Regions from separate parts of the Homo sapiens genome. Here all the other regions are reported to be linked to region 1. The links are microRNA targets in miRTarBase. Many come from high-throughput screens and were not tested one by one. Region 1 holds a microRNA gene; each other region holds the end of a gene's coding sequence.

What was found. The annotated mature microRNA hsa-miR-335-5p reads UCAAGAGCAAUAACGAAAAAUGU and lies in region 1 at 1,913-1,935, shown strand. An mRNA with a match to its seed (bases 2 to 7 or 8) in the 3' UTR can be bound and repressed. Matches are read on the target gene's strand: a 7mer-m8 pairs with bases 2 to 8, a 7mer-A1 pairs with bases 2 to 7 and ends in A, and an 8mer does both.
Region 2: the mRNA of TNS2 is a reported target of hsa-miR-335-5p. The part of its 3' UTR that is shown has no 7-base or 8-base seed match.
Region 3: the mRNA of SMTNL1 is a reported target of hsa-miR-335-5p. The part of its 3' UTR that is shown has no 7-base or 8-base seed match.
Region 4: the mRNA of LIPA is a reported target of hsa-miR-335-5p. The part of its 3' UTR that is shown has no 7-base or 8-base seed match.
Region 5: miRTarBase lists SLC4A8 as a target of hsa-miR-335-5p. Seed matches in the 3' UTR shown: 7mer-A1 at 1,304-1,310.
Region 6: the mRNA of TULP4 is a reported target of hsa-miR-335-5p. The part of its 3' UTR that is shown has no 7-base or 8-base seed match.
Region 7: the mRNA of PITPNM2 is a reported target of hsa-miR-335-5p. Seed matches in the 3' UTR shown: 7mer-A1 at 620-626.

Annotation. Positions count from the first base shown.
Region 1 is chr7:130,494,214-130,497,308 of GRCh38, forward strand. It overlaps MIR335 (microRNA 335), which reads left to right and starts at 1,898; the gene lies at 1,898-1,991. It overlaps MEST (mesoderm specific transcript), which reads left to right. Exons shown (of 12, transcript NM_002402.4): 2 at 1,155-1,309; 3 at 2,943-3,022.
Region 2 is chr12:53,063,400-53,066,399 of GRCh38, reverse strand. It overlaps TNS2 (tensin 2), which reads right to left. Exons shown (of 29, transcript NM_170754.4): 27 at 2,983-3,000; 28 at 2,808-2,837; 29 at 2,021-2,656. The coding sequence ends at 2,518. SPRYD3 (SPRY domain containing 3) reads left to right here. Exons shown (of 11, transcript NM_032840.3): 10 at 1-86; 11 at 434-2,084. The coding sequence ends at 568. Among named protein-coding and RNA genes, the nearest start is that of MIR6757, 8.0 kb to the right of the region's middle. RefSeq lists an enhancer at 1-461.
Region 3 is chr11:57,549,749-57,552,843 of GRCh38, forward strand. SMTNL1 (smoothelin like 1) reads left to right here. Exons shown (of 8, transcript NM_001105565.3): 8 at 220-524. The coding sequence ends at 364. It overlaps UBE2L6 (ubiquitin conjugating enzyme E2 L6), which reads right to left. Exons shown (of 4, transcript NM_004223.5): 4 at 1,914-2,761. The coding sequence ends at 2,610. Among named protein-coding and RNA genes, the nearest start is that of SMTNL1, 14 kb to the left of the region's middle.
Region 4 is chr10:89,212,331-89,215,414 of GRCh38, forward strand. It overlaps LIPA (lipase A, lysosomal acid type), which reads right to left. Exons shown (of 10, transcript NM_000235.4): 10 at 1,242-2,731. The coding sequence ends at 2,498. Among named protein-coding and RNA genes, the nearest start is that of CH25H, 6.6 kb to the left of the region's middle.
Region 5 is chr12:51,507,131-51,510,218 of GRCh38, forward strand. It overlaps SLC4A8 (solute carrier family 4 member 8), which reads left to right. Exons shown (of 25, transcript NM_001039960.3): 25 at 296-3,088. The coding sequence ends at 308. Among named protein-coding and RNA genes, the nearest start is that of SCN8A, 83 kb to the right of the region's middle.
Region 6 is chr6:158,506,209-158,509,303 of GRCh38, forward strand. It overlaps TULP4 (TUB like protein 4), which reads left to right. Exons shown (of 14, transcript NM_020245.5): 14 at 370-3,095. The coding sequence ends at 486. Among named protein-coding and RNA genes, the nearest start is that of TMEM181, 52 kb to the right of the region's middle. RefSeq lists an enhancer at 277-777.
Region 7 is chr12:122,983,342-122,986,436 of GRCh38, forward strand. PITPNM2 (phosphatidylinositol transfer protein membrane associated 2) reads right to left here. Exons shown (of 26, transcript NM_020845.3): 25 at 3,095; 26 at 139-3,009. The coding sequence ends at 2,686. Among named protein-coding and RNA genes, the nearest start is that of ARL6IP4, 4.2 kb to the left of the region's middle.

The sequences.
Region 1 (3,095 bases):
ACAGGCAATAGGGAAGAATGTGTGTACAGACGGAAAGCCATTTCCCCCAGGGCTTTAGCAATTAATTTATTTCAGCTCTATGACAACTCTAATTTTAGTTTTGGAGGGTATTATTTCCATTCTGGCTGTTTTGAGAGAACTTCCATTCTACTGACAATTCTTGATCTGTTGACCATCAGAAGTCATAGACTTGAAACAGAACGGTTTATAATTCCTGTTTGGCACTCCTTGTCAATGTGGATAAACTGACTTGTGCCTTTGAAGTCCTGGGCATGGGAGGGTTGGGTGTACCAACCAGTGCTCTTTTTCCAAAGACAAAATCAATTCTCACACGCTGGGTATGAGTTATGCCTTATCTGGGGGTGGGGGAGCATCTTAGGAAATTAAATGGAAACTTAAAGAGTCTGCTAAGAAAAGCAGAAATGTAATCTACCGCCTTGACCTCTCAAGAGATTAGATATTCAGGGTCATGACAAAGCTGCTTATGTTGGAATACACAGTGCAGCTATCTTACTTTCACAGACTGTTTACCCTGAGCAGTTTCTCAGCCCAAATCCAGAAAGGAGTACTAAATGGGGCTTCATTTAGGCAGGAGGGCTGAAAATCAGGAGTAGCTCTCTGCTTGAGGACATGTGATAAGTTACTACACACACACACTCTTTAAAACATGAGATATAGCACATATATATTTTTTGAACATTTTACTGGTTGGGGGTAGTGGGTAGATGGTAGAGCTTTTGGAGTAAATAAGAAAGAAGTTATTTTTTTCCTGGGAAGCCTTGATAAAAGTCAACGAAAGAGTGTCCAGCATTTAAGTCATGTCCCTTTTATTTATATAAAGTCCTCTTCAGCAGGTATTGGGAAGACCACAAGGGTAGGGGCTAAGGGGTTAAAGTCGGGGAGCAGAGGCAGAAGATTATATGTTGAAATAATGTATTTTTTTTCCTTAAGATTAGAATGATGAACAAATATGGTGAGTGCTATGGCAGACAGAGGTTTGATTATAGTCTCGGTCAGCTTTGTGCCTATGTGAAGGGCAATGTAATCATTGCATGGTAACAGCAATCTCCCACCCCATCTTACCAGGTTTTGGTTTGTAGATGAGTGGACAATGTTACCTGACTGCTTACAGTGGGTCTCTGCTTTTCCTACAGGATGAGGGAGTGGTGGGTCCAGGTGGGGCTGCTGGCCGTGCCCCTGCTTGCTGCGTACCTGCACATCCCACCCCCTCAGCTCTCCCCTGCCCTTCACTCATGGAAGTCTTCAGGCAAGTTTTTCACTTACAAGGGACTGCGTATCTTCTACCAAGGTAAGAAGTGGACTATTGGAAGTCCTGCGTGTATCGGTCACATAAGTCCCAGCTGAGGTATTTATTTTGTGGCTATTGGTCTCTTGTTGCTCCTTAATGATGGAGGAGAGTATCTCTCTCTCTTTCTGTGTAGTGTGCTTGCAGAGAAGCGCAGAAAACTGCTGGGAGAATGGGGGTAGGGACTGAGATTCCAACCTGCAGACCTTACCTTTTAGTATAAGTTTTCTTTGTAGCTTGATATGTATTCCAATATTAGTTTTTTTTTTTTTTTGAGCAACCTGTCAGGTAATATATAAAATATTAATAGATATAACCACCATTGGTTCTCTCTCCTTACCATCCCTGATTTCATTTTTTCTGTAGATTATTTGTAGTGTAACTGTGATTTAAGTCTTGATACCATTATATAAATTAATTTGCTAGTGATGATGATTATTATGACCACTACTTATCAAGTAATTACCATATGCCAGGCACTGAGTTATGTTTTCAGCCTTCATTGTTTAATCTTTACAACAGCATTTGGAGATAGGTGCCATTAACCTCATTTTATAGGTGAAGAAACTGAGAAACAGATTGGAAATGATTTGTTTTGAGCGGGGGTCAAGAGCAATAACGAAAAATGTTTGTCATAAACCGTTTTTCATTATTGCTCCTGACCTCCTCTCATTTGCTATATTCAATTAAGTAAGTATACAATTTTTATTATGTTGGCTTGGGTTACTTCCAGTTTTACTGTTTTAGAAAACTAATGTTGAAGTAAAAGCTTCATGTCCATACAGTTTATTTTTTCCTTACATTTTCAAACTATACTACTTGTATAAATGGAATGATTTTATTTGCACAGATTCTCAAGAACAAAACTCTTAGGCTAAAGTATATACAATTTTTAACTGCTTCTAAATTATTTTTGAAAACCTTATTACCAAATTTTCATGTCACTGGCAGTATATGAATATACCTGTTCTAATCCCATACTATTAGCAAGGTTAATATTGTCTAAATGTTTACCTAATTTAGATGATGCTGAATGCTTCCATATTGTCATATGCATTAAAAAAGTTCATGTTTATGTTGATTAAGCCCTTTTTATAGTTGACAGGATTTTGTAATAGTTTTATTATGTTTTTGATGTTAGATTGGGTCTCCTGCTGAATAAAAAGTGCTGAGCAAACAGCATAAGCTAAAGGTGTTCCTTGGGAATAGTTGCTGTATCTTAGAGAATTTCTGTGAGGCCATTCATGATAAAGTACAAAGAATTTGTAGTTTATGTGTTGTGATCATATGCTTTTAACTGAAAATTTACTTTTCACTGAAAAAATTTGCATATTACAGAACAAAAGGAGAAATGGGGAGATGCTGTTTAAAAACACCTAGGTGAAAGTAAACAAGGTGCCTTCAAGTATTTTCACATAGCATGATTTTTACAATGTTTTAATATACAGATTGAAAGGAGAAAAGGCCTGTTCTCACCTAACGCAGTTAAGCTTACATTTTACAAATAATTGTGTCATTTTAATGTCAATTTGGTCACAGTTGCTTGTTCTTTGTATCAGATTACTTAGATTTTAACATCTTCGAGGTTATTTTTATAGGGATTTGGCATAATTGATTGTACTTTCCTTCTTCCTAGACTCTGTGGGTGTGGTTGGAAGTCCAGAGATAGTTGTGCTTTTACACGGTTTTCCAACATCCAGCTACGACTGGTACAAGGTAATGAAGTCAGACTTCTACGTCCTACTATGTCTTAAAAAATCTCGGCCGGGCGCGGGGGCTCAAATCCTAG
Region 2 (3,000 bases), not on the chromosome of region 1:
AGGAAGGGGAAGAGGAAGAGGAGGAAGAGGAAGAGGAAGAGGATGGGGAAGAGATAGAGCCGGAGCATGAGGGCAGGAAGGTGGTGGTGAGTACGGAGAGTTTGAGGTGGGACCAGGGTTTTTGGGTCTGGGCAAAGGGTGGGTATTAGTGGGGAACAGAACTCACAACCAGGGTGGGAAAGACGGGAAGCTCTGGCGTTGCCCAAGGGCTGTTCCCAGCTCCAGGGGTTGCTGAGATCGGGAGACGGTCTTGGGAGGCTGTTTTCCGGCCTCAGCACGCCCTCTGGTGGTCACTTCCCATAACACCTTAACTGCCCCTCTCCAGCCCCGCTGGAAGCTGGGGTGATTGGGGTTCAGGCCTGTGGAGCTCCAGCATCCTCAGGGAAGAGGCCACAGCCTGCTTGCTCCATTCTTCTCCCCACCTCCTCCCCAGGTTTTCTTCACTCGGAATGGCAAGATCATTGGGAAGAAGGATGCTGTTGTTCCTTCTGGAGGCTTCTTCCCCACCATTGGAATGCTGAGCTGCGGGGAGAAAGTCAAAGTAGATCTGCACCCCTTGAGTGGCTAGGGCCTCCCCTCCAGACCTGCTCCTTCTCCCTGCTCACCCTCTGCTGGGCCAGGCACCCAGTTCCTGACTTCCCAGAGGCTTCGTTTACCCAGCAGGCCCCTGGAGGTGTGTAGTCACTCTGCCCCCACTGGCTCAGGCCCCTGTCACGCTTCTCTGTGCCCACGTTTCTGACCTGGTGCTGCCACTGTTGTCAGTCCCTGGGCCTGAGTCCCTGGTTGGACAGGAATGGACCCAAAGAATGGTGTTGGTATGTGGGTGGTCCCACTCGCTTTGGTCAGTGGGCTTCTGGGTCCCCCTTTCCCTCACCGGCCCTGTGTGGGTGGAGAGGCGTGAGCACCCTATCTCAGCTGCTATTCGGGCATGATGCTTTGTAGAGGGTAGAGTAGACAGCCCCCTCCCCTACTCACCATGGTATTTCTCCTTGAATTCCTCTTTCTTGTTTTCTTTCCTGGTTGTGTGAACCAGTTGCTGCTGTCATACCCCTGGCAGGGCCAGGGGACCTCTCTTTGGTCATCTCTGTCCTTTCACTGGCTGCTGCCCCAGGAAGACTCCTCTAGGCTCTCCATCTTTCCCTTGAGAGCTGGCTCCCCACCCCAACCTGCTCAGGCACCACAGAGGATCTAGGTCTCTGGCTCCCCATACCTGGACCCACATGGGTGGGTGCCTGTTGCATGTTTAAGAGAGAGGGGCTGTGAGGTGACAGGGCACTAGGGCCTTCACTCCTTTCTCCCCTTCCATCCTTTCTTTACCAGTGCCACCCATGTCCCTAGCTCCCGGGTATTGGGGCTGAGGCTCTGGGGCCTGTCTCCCTGCCAGCGTGAGGGCAAGACCCCAGAGCCTTAGCTGAGCAAGCCCAGAGGGGCAGCGTGGCCCCTCCCTCCCCTTTTCCTGCCCCGTCCCATGCCTCAGCTTGCTGCTTGTGCCAGTTGCCTGTTTCGCTTCAGTGTTTGATTCTAGCACTTACATGTGTCCTCCCCACCAAGCCCTCTATCTCCTTCTAATCCTTCAACCCCTGGCCCCCTCCCCGTAACAGTGACTTTTCCAGGGAGGAAGAGGCAGCAGGAGCTGTTGGCCTTGGTTTGCACAGAGCGGGTAGGGCTGTAGGGAAAGCGGGTGAGCTGTTGTGCTGCTGGGCCTCCCTTTGGCCCTCGCTTCCCACCCTACGATGTATGAAATGTATGTACAGACCAGAGATGTTTATACAGCCGATAAAGATGGAGTTTCCGTATTTATCAGTATGGCCGGAACCAGGAGCCTTTCTAGTCCACTGGGCTAGGAACAGGACTGCTGGATGGGGGCAGCCGAAGGCAGCTTGCTCATGGGGAGATGTGGACCAATGTTGGGCCAGGGATGGGAATCATATGTTCCATGGGCCTGGCTACAGGCCTGAGCACAGATACGTCCCCTGGGAGATGAGGCTTTGACCTTCCTGTGAATAAGTGTTGACTCCAATTTCGGCTAAAGTTTATAGAAATTCTTTATTATTAGACAAAAATAGACTCTCTTTTTTCCCCTATTCATGTGATCCTACTCTGAATCTCTGCTCAGAGGAGGCAGTGACTCGCTCCCCACCCCTCTCCCATCCCTGCCGTGCTGGCACCTGCAGCTGGGTGGAACTGGCAGGGGCTGATCCCCTGGAGGGCTGACGTTCTCCTGCAGGTGGGGCTGCCTGATCTCCTTCGGGGCTCAACTGCTGATGCCTCCTCACCCCTCACACACCCATCTCTGCCATCTGCTCACATGCAAGGTCATCTTGTGGGCCTGTCCACTTAACTTAGCAGGCTGGGGGCGGGGAAGGAGAGCAGTGTCCCAGGCCTGATGCCCACTCCTCATTCCTAAGGGAGGGTGCTTTCTCCTGGGTCTCCTGGGTCCAGGCCAGGGGATGTGAGGGCTGTGGGGTGCTGGGAGGGGGGCAGTGTTGATGTGGGCTCTGAGCTTGTGGCCTTCCTTCATTTTCTCTGGCCCAGTAGAACTTTGGTGATGAAGGTGACAATGGCGCCAGCAGGCTGATCTGGGTCAAGCTCTGCAAAGAGGTGACACACATTCTCCCAGGGGCTTCCCGGCTTCTTGGCCACGAAACCAAAGATCCTAGGGGGATAAAGGGTGGGGAAGGGGCTTAACATTCCTTCCACAAGGGAATGTAGCTGGCCTTGGTGAGACAAATCAAATGCCAGCATTGAGAGGACAGCAGCGCCCTGGTCCCTTGGAAGGAAGAGGCTGAATTCGTGGGGAGGCTTACTTGGAGGTGGTCCCGTCTGGGTTGGTCCATCTGCAGAAGGAGAAGAAGGTGAAGATGCACACCCCAGGGGACAGCTGCTGAAGGGGGGCCGGGGCCGGGGCTGGGGCTGGGGCTGGGAGCTGGGACCTGGTGGGACCATGGGGATTTGGGGCAAAGGGTTTGGAGGGAGAGTCACCTCCGGTCTTGAGGGTCA
Region 3 (3,095 bases), not on the chromosome of region 1:
GAAGCCACAGCACCTGGCCTGGGTTTGTCTTAACTCTGTTGGGGTCTCAGTTATCTCATCTAGATATATAATGGGATGATTGGCTTAGATGATCTCCCAGCCCCAACATCCCAGCCCATCCTATGGGCTTCGTCATTGCTGGGCTGCCTGCACCCATCCCCTTGGCTCCCATATCCTTCACCTTTGACCTTCTGCTCCTCATTCCACCCCATTCCTTAGGAAACTGGCTGACTGTGCTCAGCTGCTGGACGTGGATGACATGGTGCGGTTGGCTGTGCCCGACTCCAAGTGCGTCTACACATACATCCAGGAACTGTACCGCAGCCTTGTGCAGAAAGGACTGGTGAAGACCAAGAAGAAGTGAGGAGGTGACTGGCTCTGTGGGCAGAGATGGGCAGGGTGCCCAGCTCAGCAGCCACGGCCCGGGGGTTCCCTTCTGCTCCATGGAGGCACCAGAGCCAGGGGCTTAGGCAAGGGTGTGTGGCGTTGGTTTTAACTGCATTAAAAGTACTTTTGTAAAATCCTGTCTGGCCCCTCAGTGCTCTCTCCATACTTGGCCCAGGAACCTCTGCACTCTGGGATAATAAACTCTGGCCATAGGGGATTCCTCACCTGCTGAGGTCTCAATAACTGCGCAAGGTGTTTGGGAAAGGACAATGGCCTGGTTCCCACCACTAACCAGCTGTGTGACACATACAGTTAACCTCTCTGGGCCCCAGTTTACAGTCTGAAAGGGGATAATGAGAGTTCCAACCTTATGAAGGTGTTGCAAGAGTTAAACGAGATAATGAAATGGGCAAAAAGCTTTGCCCAGTCCTGCCACTCAAGTGTTCAGTAAGTGGTCGCCAAAAATAAAAAACTTACATTTTGACTCTGGTGGCACTTCTTCTGGTTATCTTCCCCTCTTTTCACACTTCTTCTCAGGTTAGGGGACTCCAGGGCAGGAGCTGGAGAAGATTCTCTAGAAACTAGTGGGATCTGGGTGACTTCCTTGACTCAAATCACCCCATATTCTATCTCTGAAAAGCCAGCAGTATTCCAGGAGCTTACAACAATTGCAACCAGAAAGTTCTTCTTCTGGGTTAAGTTAATCCCTTAACTGAAGTTAATCCCTGGCTGAAGTTTTGGCTTGTTTTTGTTTTTCCATTGCTCATGAGATACAAACCCCTGAGCTGATTACAATTTCCTGCTAACTATCCAGTCTGGCTTTATCAGCCATTTGGGGCATGTGTGCTGATGAAAGCAGCTCATGAAAAATACAGAAAACAAAACACACCCCAGCCATAACCCTGGCTCACCTGCAGGGGTGTGGATTGGCAGAGTGGACCCCAGCAATCCACTGAAGTGCTCTGTGCCTCAATTGCCTCATCTTTAAAATGGGGGTGTTGGCCGGGCATGGTGGCTCACACCTATAATCCCAGCACTTTGGGAGGCTGAGGCGGGTGGATCACCTGAGGTCAGGAGTTCGAGACCAGCCTGGCCAATGTGGTGAAACCCCATCTTTACTAAAAATACAAAAATTAGCCAGGCGTGGTGGCGGGCATCTGTAATCCCAGTTACTCAAGAGACTGAGGCAGGAGAATCGCTTGAACTCAGGAGGCGGAGGTTGCAGTGAGCCGAGATTGCACTGCTGCACTCTAGCCTGGGCGACGGAGTGAGATTCTGTCTTAAATAAATAAATAAATAAATAAATAAATAAATAAATAAAATAAAATGGGGACGTCACCCCTGTGGACCTTCTGAAAGCTCCTCTGTCCAAGGATGGCCTATTTTTCCATGGCCAACATTCCTTATGATGTTTAGGGAACATTCAAGGGAAGCAAGGTCAGAAATTTATGCTTAAATCCCTAGTCCTCTATGGTCCTGATGAAACCACCCCATCCCCTCATCAAAGACTCAGCTGCACTCCAGAATTCATCTCTGACTTTAATGGCTTAAGCAAGAACATGGTTTCCGTGGCTCCCCCTGGACTGAATGCTGGAGGATATATACTTCACAGTCTGAGGCCTGGTCCCAGGAACTGGCAATCTAACAGGATGGCAAGTGGTTTTGAAACATATAGATTTTCAGGATGGAAGTTTGATTCTTCAGATTGTGACTCATCCGTGGAAAATAAATGGTTTAGCACCTAAATCTGTATATTCCCATCAGTGGCTTGGCTGACTCAGTTGTAAATAGGGTACCCTCCATCTGTCTCCCACCCATATGCTCCACTGTCCCCAGGCCCTCAGTGCCTGAGCCCTAGGGGGATTCGAGTTGGCTGCTGGATTCATTTCCTGCAAGCAGGCCTGCAAGGTGACCTGTCTCTCTAAGATGGAGAGCTGGAGAACTGGCCTGTAACTGCAAACTTAAACTCCCTTGGCTCTGGGGAATGTAAAGGGTGTGGGAAGGGTGCACCTGTGGCCAGGTGAACCTGGGAGTGAGTCCATACACAACACACACACTCATAGCTCCCTTCCCTCCACCACACACACACACAAACTAATGACTAACAACCTAAGAAGGGAAAAATGAATGGGGAATGGGCCACAGGGGGCTCTGGCCTCAGTCCATGAGGTGTGTCCGTCCGCTATGCCGAGGATCCAGTGCACAGAGGGTCAGAACATGAGTTAGGAGGGCCGGTCCACTCCGAATCGGAGGGTGAACTCTTCGGCATTCTTTCTGAACAGCTCCGGATTCTGTGTCAGCAGGTCAGCGAGGTCCATCCGCAGGGGCTCCCTGATATTCGGTCTATTCACCAGCACATTGAGGGCCTCCAGGACTGGGGAGAGACAGGCCAGATCAGGATATCAGGGCAGAGGGAAGGGAGTCATGGCTGCCCGTTCCCAATGTCCTGACACTCCACACTCACTCCTTGGGGGAAAGGTTACATCGCTTAGGATTACTCTACGACCAGATCAAACGCCCCGCTCATTCTTGGCTGGTGACACCCAAGGCCTTGACTGATTACATCAGTGGTTTTCAAACAACTACATTCCATGGCTTCAGAGAAGCTCCTCATCACAGGGGCCACTGAGATAAGTGAGGTTTCTGGGTCTTATCCCCATTTCAACAAAAACTGCTCTGTTTTCCTCCATTATATTGGTAGTCCAAAT
Region 4 (3,084 bases), not on the chromosome of region 1:
AGATGTTATCCACTAGGCAAGAATTAATTATACTCCTGAACAGAAATAATACTACCATGGCTGGCCATCAAATTCCAACTGGCTCAGAAAGCAACAAAGTTCTCTACCTTCCCTGGTAGATGCTGGAGAAAATCTTAGAAAAAGTAGTGAGGACATGAACAGACACTTCTCAAAAGAAGGCATTTATGCAGCCAAAAAACACATGAAAAAATGCTCACCATCACTGGCCATCAGAGGAATGAAAATCAAAACCACAATGAGATACCATCTCACACCAGTTAGAATGGAAATCATTACAAAGTCAGGAAACAACGGGTGCTGGAGAGGATGTGGAGAAATAGGAACACTTTTACACTGTTGGTGGGACTGTAAACTAGTTCAACCATTGTGGAAGTCAGTGTGGCGATTCCTCAGGGATCTAGAACTAGAAATACCATTTGACCCAGCCATCCCATTACTGGGTATATACCCAAAGGACTATAAATCATGCTGCTATAAAGACACATGCACACGTATGTTTATTGCGGCACTATTCACAATAGCAAAGACTTGGAACCAACCCAAATGTCCAACAATGATAGACTGGATTAAGAAAATGTGGCACATATACACCATGGAATGCTATGCAGCCATAAAAAATGATGAGTTCATGTCCTTTGTAGGGACGTGGATGAAATTGGAAATCATCAATCTCAGTAAACTATCCCAAGAAAAAAAAACCAAACACCGCATATTCTCACTCATAGGTGGGAATTGAACAATGAGAACACATGGACACAGGAAGGGGAACATCACACTCTGGGGACTGTTGTGGGGTGGGGGGAGGTAGGAGGGATAGCTTTAGGAGATAATGCTAAATGACGAGTTAATGGGTGCAGCACACCAGCATGGCACATGTATACATATGTAACTAACCTGCACATTGTGCACATGTACCCTAAAACTTAAAGTATAATAATAATAAAGAAAAGAAAAGAAAAGAAAAGAAAAGAAAAGAAAAGAAAAGAAAAGAAAAGAAAAAGTAGTGAGGGAAGAGAGCGTGGGAAGATTTGCAAGCAAAGCCAAGAGTGCCCTCTTGTGGCATACAAAAAAATGATTTTTAAAAATCACTCGTTACTTGGTAGCCCTTCATTTCCCGGAGTAAACACATTAACCTTGAGAAGAGTTCCAAGTACTGCCAAGAGAGAAAGGGAAGAACCGGATGACTGTTAAATAAAAGAGAAAAAACATACACACAATTCTTTGGGCCTATAAGTCTCACTCAATTTTATTGAAAAGTTTAAGACTTTAAAAGTTACAAAGTAGTATTCGCCCTGCCTATATTAACCATTAACAAGCATTGTACTGTTAGTGCAGCTAAAGTAATTATATCAGAAAAACATATCAATTGTCATTTTGTCCACCGGACAGTATTGTAAGGAAATGATGCTGCAAGAAAAGCAGACAAATATGGACTTCCCAACATAGGGACGTGAAGCAGGTGTATTAAAAATAAGGATGCATATAAAACTAAGACACAAAATGAATCCCTGAGCTGAGTTTGCATCCGAAAACATCACGTTCACACTTCATTTGGGTGAAAATGAACAAGGACACTTCTCATGGGCAACCACGGGGCTTTGGCTTCACACAGATGTGATCAATAACGACAGTAGCGGGCTCCAAGAGTACATTAATCTCAGAAAAAATAGTGGTATAGTCTCCACAGGGATTTGCTTCTCAGATAAGTAGAACTATGGCCTGCCATGAAATTGAGAGCTCATGAATATAGATGGTTGAGTGTATCAGTCTTCAAAGCATTTAAAACATACTTTTGTTTTTGTTTTATCAGTGCAATTTGTTTTTGAAGACGCCGGAAAACTATTTCATTTAACCTGAGCAATTAAAACGTGTCAAATCACAGCTGTCACAGTTAGGTTTGATAAAATTAATTGTTAGCATCCTTATTACTGGCACAGCTGTGATATTTCTGGATTTGACTATGCACCTGCTGCAGGAAAACATGATAAAATGTCATTTAGATCTCTAACTACAAGACCGTTAGACTAGAGAGCTCTTTAAGGCAAGGACATGAAAACTGCGTACTTTTATACCTCGCTTAAGTCAGTGACAGATTTACCAATGACAACACAATTTTAAAATTCCAACACATATATTACTTTGTCCTATGAAGGGCAAAAAGTCAATATATTTTAAATTTTAAAAACAGAATGGATATAATGACCTTTTTACACATCAGTGATATTTAAAAGACTTAAAGAGACAATACTATGGTTGAGACACTGGCTTCCTATTCCAGCCCTAATTAAAGAAAAAATAGCTAGTATGTTTCTAATTGAAACTAGAGTGAACTGGGCATCTTCAAAGTTATCATTTTCTTGGATATAAAAAAACAAAAGACCTGGGAAAGAAAAACAAGTGTTTTACAGAAATGAAGCAAACACATTTTCACATGACATAATCATTGACTTGGTGGTACACAGCTCAAGTCCAGCTTTCACTGATATTTCCTCATTAGATTAATAATTTTATTATAAAGCCTCCAAGGGGCATCCAGGCCCCAAATGAAGTCAAGATGCTCCCATTCCGGAATGCTCTCATGGAACACCAAGTTGGTGATCTGAGTCAGTAAGATATTGACGTCGTAGACATCTGCAAGCCAGTCGTGACCCCCGCTCCAGACTGCAGTCGGCACAAGCATGTCCTTCACATTGTATGTGGGAGGATAACTCTACAATGAAAAGGAACCAGAGAAAGCCTCGTTGTTGTTGTTGTTTTAATTTTCAAAATCACAATAAGCGCAATCTCCATTAAACATTGTCTAGTAAGTTTGACTAACAGACTAAATTTTTAAAATCTCTTTGAGTATCTTTTCAAGTTGCCATTACCGGCACAAAAAAAGAAATCTAACCCCAAATGAGAGAATGCTAATTATAATCGCCACTAGCTGTGGAGCTGCTGCCGTAGGCTGGGCACCAAAATGAATGTTTAATCCCCGGCAAGGAAGGTGTTGTACTCCATAGGTAGTACACTCAAGGCAATAGTGGCTGGAAAGAGTTTGGGGTCATGCCCTCCTACTTCTTC
Region 5 (3,088 bases), not on the chromosome of region 1:
AAAGTCACAGCCACCAGTGGGTGGTAGTGGTGATTTATGTCTTCATCGAATGGGTTAAAATGAATCTCTGCTGAATGTGAGTGAAATATAGAATCTTGTTTCCTTCGGAGGAAAATCCAGGCAGCTGTCGAAATGTATAACGCACATGGTTATTTTTAGTTGAGAACTAGTCTACTTGTAAATGAACTTAAAATATAGCCAGATCCAAATTGTGGTGACATCTTCAAAGTATTGTGTTAAAAGGAGGAATGAATCATATGTTCCCTTTTTGTCTAATTGTAACACTTTTATTCAGTCTCTTCAACTAAGAGTCTTTGCTGGGATGGAAGATTTGGGCCGTGTGGTGCCTCAGGGAAGTTCTGGTTACAGAGAAAATGGCGAGTCTCTCAGAGAAGAAGCAAGACCAAGTCTGGCCCTGTCCTTGGTCATCTCAAAGCCATGCCGAAGCATTCAGTTATTCTTGGTGTGCATTGGAAGGCATCCAGCTATCCCCATACCAGCAGCCAGTCACCAGATGTGAATGTGGAAGCAGAAGACCACCTCCTGTTGGTTCTTCTCCTCTTCCTTCTTTTTCTCTTTAGAACGGCCACCATTGAAGACCTAGCTTCCCATTTTCCAGACGTTTTCTCTGAAATTCTCTGCTGGCCTGCCAAGCCATATGGATTCATTCTGCCACTGAGGAGTCCTTCAGTGAGGTCCCTCTTCCTAAAGGACAGAGTGGGGAGTAGGAGGGGAACAGAGAGGACATCCTCTCTGGCTCTCCAGTGCTCTTAGTGTCTACAGGCTCCTAGGCAGCCCTGGGCCTTGGTTTGATTACCTCCCCTGGGGGATGCTGGTCAGACCCAGAGGTTGTCAGGAGGTCAGCTACCAGGAAGATCCATGATCTGGGCATTGGCAGTGCCTGCCACCACAGCCAGGAAGATGCCTCTGACCTGGGTGCATCTCCATCACTCCTTAGCAGCAGCCTGCATAACTGGCAAGAATCTTGGATGATACAAGAGCCAAGAAGGGACATTTGAGTTGTGTCGCTTAGATAGGAAAGGGATCCAGGGAAAATCAACAGTAAGTGAGGATGAGCAGTGTCTCTTGGTTTTCATTGAGGATAGAGTAAGAGATTGAGTTTAGATTGCAACAGAAGGAATTAGTTTAGATACCAGGAAGAACTTCCTAGCCTGAAGATTTGTCATAGTGTCTGCTTTCTAGATATCTGGGAAAGATTTGATAATAGTTGTTTGTGAATAGAAAGGAGGATATGATGTTTTTATTGGCCATTTTGCGGGACTCTTCGACTTCTTGCTGCTGTCTCTTGAGGATACATTCCAATTCCATCCTGGCGAGATCCAAGTGCTTACGTACTGTCTCCTTAGCTGCCTTAGAGTAAACGATCATCAGTTCAATGGACCAAAATCACCTTCAGCCATGTGGTTTCTTCATCATCATGGATTTCTTTTGGTTGACAAACATTCTGGCTCTCAGATGCAAAAAGTCACACTGGGAAATGAACTGTAAGTGGTGAAATTAGTTTTGGTATTTAATTTAAAACTACATTTATAGTTTTTCTCTTCTCTTCTATGTTGCAATGAATGTAAAGTATTTGGGATCCAGTGCTTATAAACCTTTCCTTCCTTTGTGCACAGAATGTAACTAGCAAGCCCATTAGCACCCAGATAATTCTATCATGTTAGTTTCCCATCCTGGAAAATCTTTGTACAGTGGGAAGTTCCCCGATGTGTTTTTCTTTCTTAGGTGAAGGGTTGGCTATATCACTTTATTGAATTTTGCATTCCTTAGACTTTTAAAATATACTAATGTATTCTAGTCTTACTCTAAAGACCTTTGATGTTAAAGGAATCCTTCATTTATTTCATATTCCCTATCTCATAGGGCCACAATTATTTTAATACAGAGATGATTTTCAAAATATTTTAACAACTGGTACAGGACAGATGCCAGCCACTCAGAAGGGATGCCTGCTGTAAACAAGCAGTATGTATGGTTGTACCAATGCCTATTGGCTGAACATTATGCTACTTTCAGATATTAAAATGGTGTTCCTTTGAATCGTGGGTATTGTTCCTGGTTTGTCTCATTTCTATCACAAGGCTGTTTTGGGCACAGCCTTAGCTTCCTTTCATATATATATGGTGCAGACAGGATAGGTCATGCTTCTTGGAACCTATATGGGCATTAAAATCTTCATGAGCCAAAGCTTCACATTTTAGCACTTTAGGATAACTGTAGTAATTGTACTCATTTACCTACCTAATTGGGAAGAATTAAAAGGCAGCCCATCTGGAGGATAAGCTTTCTTGCAGACTTTTCCCTTGTCCCTCTCTGGCTGCCTCCTTGAGCTTGCCACTTTTTCATCTTCATTGTTCCCTGAGAACATCTCCCCTTTCTTGCTCTATCTTGCCCCTCCCATCTTTTCCTGCCACCTCTGTGTGGGGAGGTTGATGACCATTTCACCTCTTTCCCTAGCCTCAGCACAGCTGTAAGGAGTGTATCAAAACTGGGTGAGAGTATCACTCAGAAAAATGCCTCCCCTAACACACGGATGTCTTGTGCTGCCTTGACCGCTTGAGGGGAGGAGCCTTCATTAACTCTGTGTAGTGCAGGTACAGGACCACCTGTGCACTTTAGGGTACTTCTCGAGCTAGACCCTCCTGGATCACTGCGCCTTAGGAATGTTAGCTACTTTTTAAAAAAAATATGATTTGGTGCGTTGTTGGGGTGAACTCCATGGGGAAGATTGTGAGTGAAGATGGGAAGGAATTTGGGTGGTTTTGCCACGAGGTGATGGTTGGGGTTGGGCGAATGGGTTGGATGATCCTGGCTCTGTGGGTGTGGTGCTCGGTTGCCTCCGTACAGTTGCAGTTCACCTTTGTGCATGGTGATTACCAGTCACTCTAGGGATTGTAGGTCCCAACAGCGGTTCCAGCAGCCTGCACAGCTGGTACGAGGACAGCTGGAGGAGGGTCTGATATCCCTGCAAGTGATGCAGGATAAAACTTCCCGGCCGGGCGCAATGGCTCGCGCCTGTAATCCCAGCACTTTGGGAGGCCAAGATGGGCGGATCACGAGGTCAGGA
Region 6 (3,095 bases), not on the chromosome of region 1:
TGCTCGCCTTGTTCTTTTTTTTTTTTTTTTTTTTTTTTTTTTGAGATGAAGTCTCCTCTGTCGCCCAGGCTGGAGTGCAGTGGCCCAATCTCAGCTCACTGCAAGCTCCACCTCCCAGGTTTACACCATTCTCCTGCCTCAGCCTCCCGAGTAGCTGGGACTACAGGCGCCCGCCACCACGCCCGGCTAATTTTTTGTATTTTTAATAGAGACGGGGTTTCACCGTGTTAGCCAGGGTGGTCTCTATCTCCTGACGTCGTGATCTGCCCACCTCGGCCTCCCAAAGTGCTGGGACTACAGGCGTGAGCCACTGCGCCTGGCCTTTTCACCTTATTCTTTAATGTCTTTGCTTCCCCTGCCCTCCTCCAGGTGATGCAGTTTGGACGGATTGATGGCAGTGCGTACATTCTAGACTTCCAGTATCCGTTCTCAGCCGTGCAGGCCTTTGCAGTTGCCCTGGCCAACGTGACTCAGCGCCTCAAATGAAGAGACTGGTGTGGGGAGGAGAGAGATGCAGAGAGCCTTTGGAAGAGGTCTTCGGAGATGCCAGAGGAGCCCTCTAGGGGTCCGATGCCTGGGAGGACCAGAAGCCAACAGCAAAACTGGAAAAGCCCGGCAGGCCCAGGAGAGGGCGCTGACCTGTGGTCGTCATTTATTTGGTTGGGTTTTATTACCTTTTATTGTCTGTTCTTCTTTTCTTCTTTCATTTCAGTGGCATTTGGAAGCAAAGAGTGCTAGGCACCTGCTGTTCTTTCAGGAAACAGCTTGGCTGTGGTAATGCTCTACTGGGCCCTTCAGAATGAAGACAGTCTGCCTTAGAGCCTGCTATTCTTTTAGACATAGGGAGGATGCATTATCCTGTATTCTCCTCCAACATCACCACTAGCGTAAAAGCAAAAAGCTTTTACAAAACACAGCCAAAAATTCTCAAGATGCAGGTTCTTGGGGAATGGGATGGGGACAGCATTTGATTTACACTGATTATGTTACTCCCCAAAAGGTGACTTAATTAATAAAGGGCATTTGGGCAGACACACTGTGTTGGACCAACAAAGTAGGCTCTTTACAGGGGTGTTCTCACCAGGTAGAAATGCGATTTGCTCACTGAGGATGTTGGGGAAGGGACGAAGGGTAAAGAAGAAACTGCACGTATACACAGGTTCACATCACTCTGCAGACAGCAATGTGACTCAGCGTGTGACTTGTAGCAGCAGTACGAGGGCTACACTCCTCTGCTGAGGATGTCTACATTGAAAGCCTCCACTAGTTTCATCGTTTGTCAAAGTTCCGTAGGATCAGTGATGGTCATTCAGCATGACTGGTTCTGGGAGAAGGTGAGAGACAAAAATGGAAAGATCCTGGCCTGTGGTAGTGGTAGCAGTTTTCTCAAATAATGTGGTGACAGTCACTAGATCCTCACATGCTGAGAAACAGCCTCTACTCTCTCTGCCCCTTTTACTTTTTAATCTGGAATGCATTACTGTAAACATGATCTTTCCCATGAGATACCATGTTCTATGCCTTCCCATTCTAAAAGTGTGGACAACGCTTGATTTGAAACCACTCCTTTTCTCCTCTTGGCTACATTAAAATTCAGTTGACTACAAATGCTTTCTATCAAATTAGAAATGTAACCAAAAAAATGTTAAGTGTTCACCAGGGTATTAAAATACAGAGGAGTATGGTCAAATCTTTGACAAAATTTTCATGATCTTCTCTAACAAAAAAAGTTGTTTATTAACTGTACAGACTGTTTACTAAGGAGCTAAACCACTGAGAAAACGTTATTAAAATTGTAATACCTAGGTAGTTGGTTGATCACAGTTTGTTAATTGTATAAAAAAAAATTACCTAGAATATCTCTTCCCACTTCCTCGTCCTCGTGAGAACCTGTGGGCAGTATTCAAGCCCTGATGACAAAACCCAGTGTTTTTTGTTGTTGTTTTTTGTTGTTGTTTTTTGTTTTTGTTTTTGTTTTTCTCAGTCTTACCTGTGATGTTGTTTAGGATCAGGCCCCTCTCCTGGGCCTGCTGTGCAGGAGCACAGGAACTATCTGCTGGCGTTGGGTTCCAAATTTGCATTTTATTTGGAAACAGACAAGTAGAAGATGCTACAGAAAAGTATTTTCAAATTTAAACGTTTTTTAATCCCCTGTTTTAGTTAAAAAATTGGAAAAGAAACCGACCCATTTTTTTCCCAGATCAAGATGACATGACATCACTCCCAATTCTCTCCAAACCCCAGAGAAATACTGACGAAGTTTTCTGATGTGGCAAAGGATATTTCCCATCTAATACCAGTTTCTCATTTATATTTAACGTATTGGACCTGATATTTTTAGTGGGTGCATTCTTCCAGAAAGAATTCAGCAATGTTATCAGAATTAATTCTTTTATATGAGTTTATGTAGCTTGATATGGTGTTTCAGTGCTTATTGGTTGTGCAATAATGGTTATAGCCTGTTAGATAATCTAAATGCAATTCCCCTGTTTTGTCGTTTAGGAGATAATTATTTATCTTGCTTTTCATAGTGTTCTTAGGAATTATTTTGTTGTTACGTTTTGGTGAGTTATACCCATTTTATTTATTTAGAAAAATAGTATCTTTGTTAACGACTTACATGGTCACAGTATATTTTGCTGCAAGAAATAAAGAGGATATGATAGAAGGTTTTTTTTTTTTTTTTTTTTTTTTTTTGAGACGGAGTCCCACTCTTGTCGCCCAACTAGAGTGTAGTGGCACAATCTCGGCTCCCCACAACCTCTGACTCCAGGGTTCAGGTGATTATTTTGCCTCAGCCTCCCAAGCAGCTGGGATTATAGACACCCGCCAACACGCCAGGCTAATGTTTTTGTATTTTTAATAGAGATGGGGTTTTGCCATGTTGGCCAGGCTGGTCTTGAACTCCTGACCTCAGGTGATCCGCCCGCCTCGGCCTCCCAAAGTGCTGGGATTACAGACGTGAGCCACCACTCCCGGCCCATAGAAGGTTTTTTGCTGGATAATTTGTAACTTTTCTAATTGGGAAAAAATTCCTATTAATCACTTAAAAATTTTTTTTTGTATTTTGTGTTATTGATTATATACAAAGGAGA
Region 7 (3,095 bases), not on the chromosome of region 1:
GGAGCTAGAAGCAGGCTAGGCCTAGAGTCAGCCCCGCACTCACGTGTTGGCGTCACTGTGAGTGTCACTAGCATTACTGTTCCATGCCCCCATCCCACCATGCCCCACGGTCGCCACTGCAGTAAAGAGATCCAGAAGGAAGCCTTCCCGCTTCTTTAATTGGTGTAACAGACATGACGTTGTATACAGAGCACACTCAGGCCCAATGATGCGGGGACAGCAGGGACGGATGGGGAGATGGGGACACTGCTCACACATGGCCCAGAGAAACAGACGGCACACGGACAGACCAGACGGGAGGGGCTGAGACGTGAAGGCTGTGATGGGGTGGGCAGTGGGACTCAGACCGAGCCAGGGAGGGGTGGGGGGTCTCTGCTGAATCCCTCTTTAGAAATCAAAGAGAAGGCAGGTGGTGGGGCGTGGGGGTGTGGTGGGAGTGGGACTAAGGCTTCTATTCTAACAGGCCTGGGGGGTGGCAGTCAGCAAGGCCTGCCTCACCCTTTGGTTATGACTGGTCAGGCCTGAGCCCTGCAGCTCAGCACCCAACTCTGTAAACATTTTTGGTATTTTTAAAGGACGCTGCCCTCCCTCTCTTAGTTTCAGAAAGACTGGTACTTCCTCAAGAGGAGAATGTGCCAAAAGGAATCTGAAGGGAGGTGGAAAGCAGACCTGGATACAGAAGAGACTTCCCATGGGGGGGCAGGCTGCCCACCTTGCCATCTATGGCTGAGGGCCGCTGGGAGAGCCCCAGGGGACTATTGCTGTTGTCCTTGGCATGGCTGGCGGCTGGGCAGGCAGGCGGGGAGTGAGGAGCCGTGGGGGAGCTGCCCCCCTGGGGAGAGGCTGAGCCCACTGCCCACAGGGCCTCCCGGCCTTTATTGCAGGAGGGCCCGAGACTCTTCCAGGTGCTTCTCTGGATGGCTGGTCTCCCAGGCAGCAGGCAAGACAGGATAAGGTGGGGCCAAGAGAGGAGGAGGCACTGGCCACAGGGCCCCTGACAGGGGCTGTGATTGTCGGGCCAAGCAACTTCCTGCTGGGAGCAGGGGGGTCAGATATTGCACTTTCACTGCAACAGTTACATGAAAACTTGGTCCATAAAATAATCGTTGCTTTATACATAATGCCTGAAACAACAAAAAGCTACATCTTAAATATGAATAAACCCTGAAGGTTCCATCCCTCCAGACTTTTTTCTCTGCACAAAATAAATAGCTTTCACTCTGTATAGACCCACTTTTGCAGAACATTTACACGACCCTTTGGCTGTACATATCTACACACGGGAAAAAGTTAACATCACTCTGTGCACCTCCCCAGCCCGGTCCATGCGTCCCAACACCAGACCCAGGTCGGCCGTAGCTTCTCGGGGACAGAGCCTGGTCGCTGGACAAAGGCCGAGGCCAGGCAGGCTCTCCCACTTCCGGGAAAGCCGAGGAGCAGCAGAGGGGCCGCCGGAGCTGGCCGTTGAGCGCCACAGCCAAGGTCACGCTTGGTGCTGGGGAGAGAGGGCAGACGGTCAGACCCAGCGTGCAGGACAGCATGGTCCTTGTTCAGGCGAGAAATGAAGTCATGGCTGCCTGCCCTGAAGCTGACAAAGCAAGTTGTGGCTTCTTAGATTCGGCATGAAAACGGAATTGGCATTAAAAAAACCGAAGTGTGTGCCCCACCCACCCCAGAGTAGAAATTCAGTGGGATTGCCGGGGCCAGGTGAGGCAAGGAGCCCATGCCTCGCTAAGTGGGCAGGAGCAGGGCCCACGGGACCCAGAACCAGGCTGGACTCCGTCACAGTGCTGGGTGTTTTCAGTGTGGAGGGGCTGCTCTCAGTACTGAAAGAGTTAAGAAAAGGAAGCAGCCAAGGATTGCTCGTTTAAAAAAACCTCATAGAAATCAGATTGAGAAGTAGAAAGGCGTAGAAACGTGGGCGGGCGGCCTTGACTGATGGCAGGGAGCGGAAGAGGCGGCCAGGCCCGTCCAGCCCGTGGCCTGAGGCTGGAAACAACACTGGCCTGGGCTCCAGGCGGGGCAGGCAGACAGGTGGGCAGGGTCCGGGGTGCAGAAATTAAGATACAGCCTTTCTCTCCTGCTTGCACGAGGCTCTGCCGCACTGGAGCCTTCAGTGTGGTTGTAGGTCCTGGGTCAGCAGGTACTGAGTTTCATGCATGTCAACGGGGCTGTAGCCATAGGAGGTGGTAATGGGTCTCCGCTCTCAAAAATCAGTGCAAAACCAGTGAGGTTGAACAGTTGAGAAACTCGAGTTAACAAGATGCAGGCTGGACCCCTGTTGGAGCTGCTACCAAATGGGAGGGGACCTGGGAGTGAGGGTGGCCAGTGGATGGGGAGGTGGCAGGCTGCGCCTGGGCCCACACCTGGCACCAGGACACTTGGAGATCCACACAGGGCAAAATGTCTGGGAGAACCTCCCGGGCCAGTCTGAGTGGGAGGTTCTGGTCCCTCTGCCATCCTGGGGCTGGTGGTCCCTGCCAGCTTCCATGACAAGCCGGACCCGTCAGGCCCGAGGACGTGAGGCAGGGCAGGGAGCACTGTGTGGTGCGGCCCGTGTCCTCCACAAGGCCCTGGGACAATCTCCCAGGCCCACGTCAGTGCGTGTGCCCAGGCCAGGCCTCCTGGCGGGGCTGGCCACCCTGGCCTAGCACCATGGAGACCCCGCGCTGCACTCACGGTGCCCTACTTGGGGCCCGCGGCTGCCCCCGGCTCCAGGCGGCCAGTCATGGCGCGGCCCCAGCAGCCGGCCGCCACACTCATGCTGCGCTGGCCCCGCTGCTCGCCATCCGCCTGGCTCTGTGTCCGCTCGTGCCGGTGGCTGGGCCCGCTGGGCTGGGCCGAGATGGTGCGAAGCAGGTGGTTCCGGGAGCGCAGAAAGTCGCCCTGGCCGGGCAGGCCGAAGCTGCCCTTGCGCAGCGCCATGCGGGTGGCCGTGTTGCGAGCGGGCCGCGCCCGGTGGCTGTACTTCAGCTGCGCCAGGTGGGCCGCGTAGCCATCCGTGATGAACTGCGGGGTCAGTGAGGACGGCTGTCACAGGCTGGGGCTCCCCGAGCTGCCCGCCTGCACCCGCCCCCACAATGCGCCCACTCACC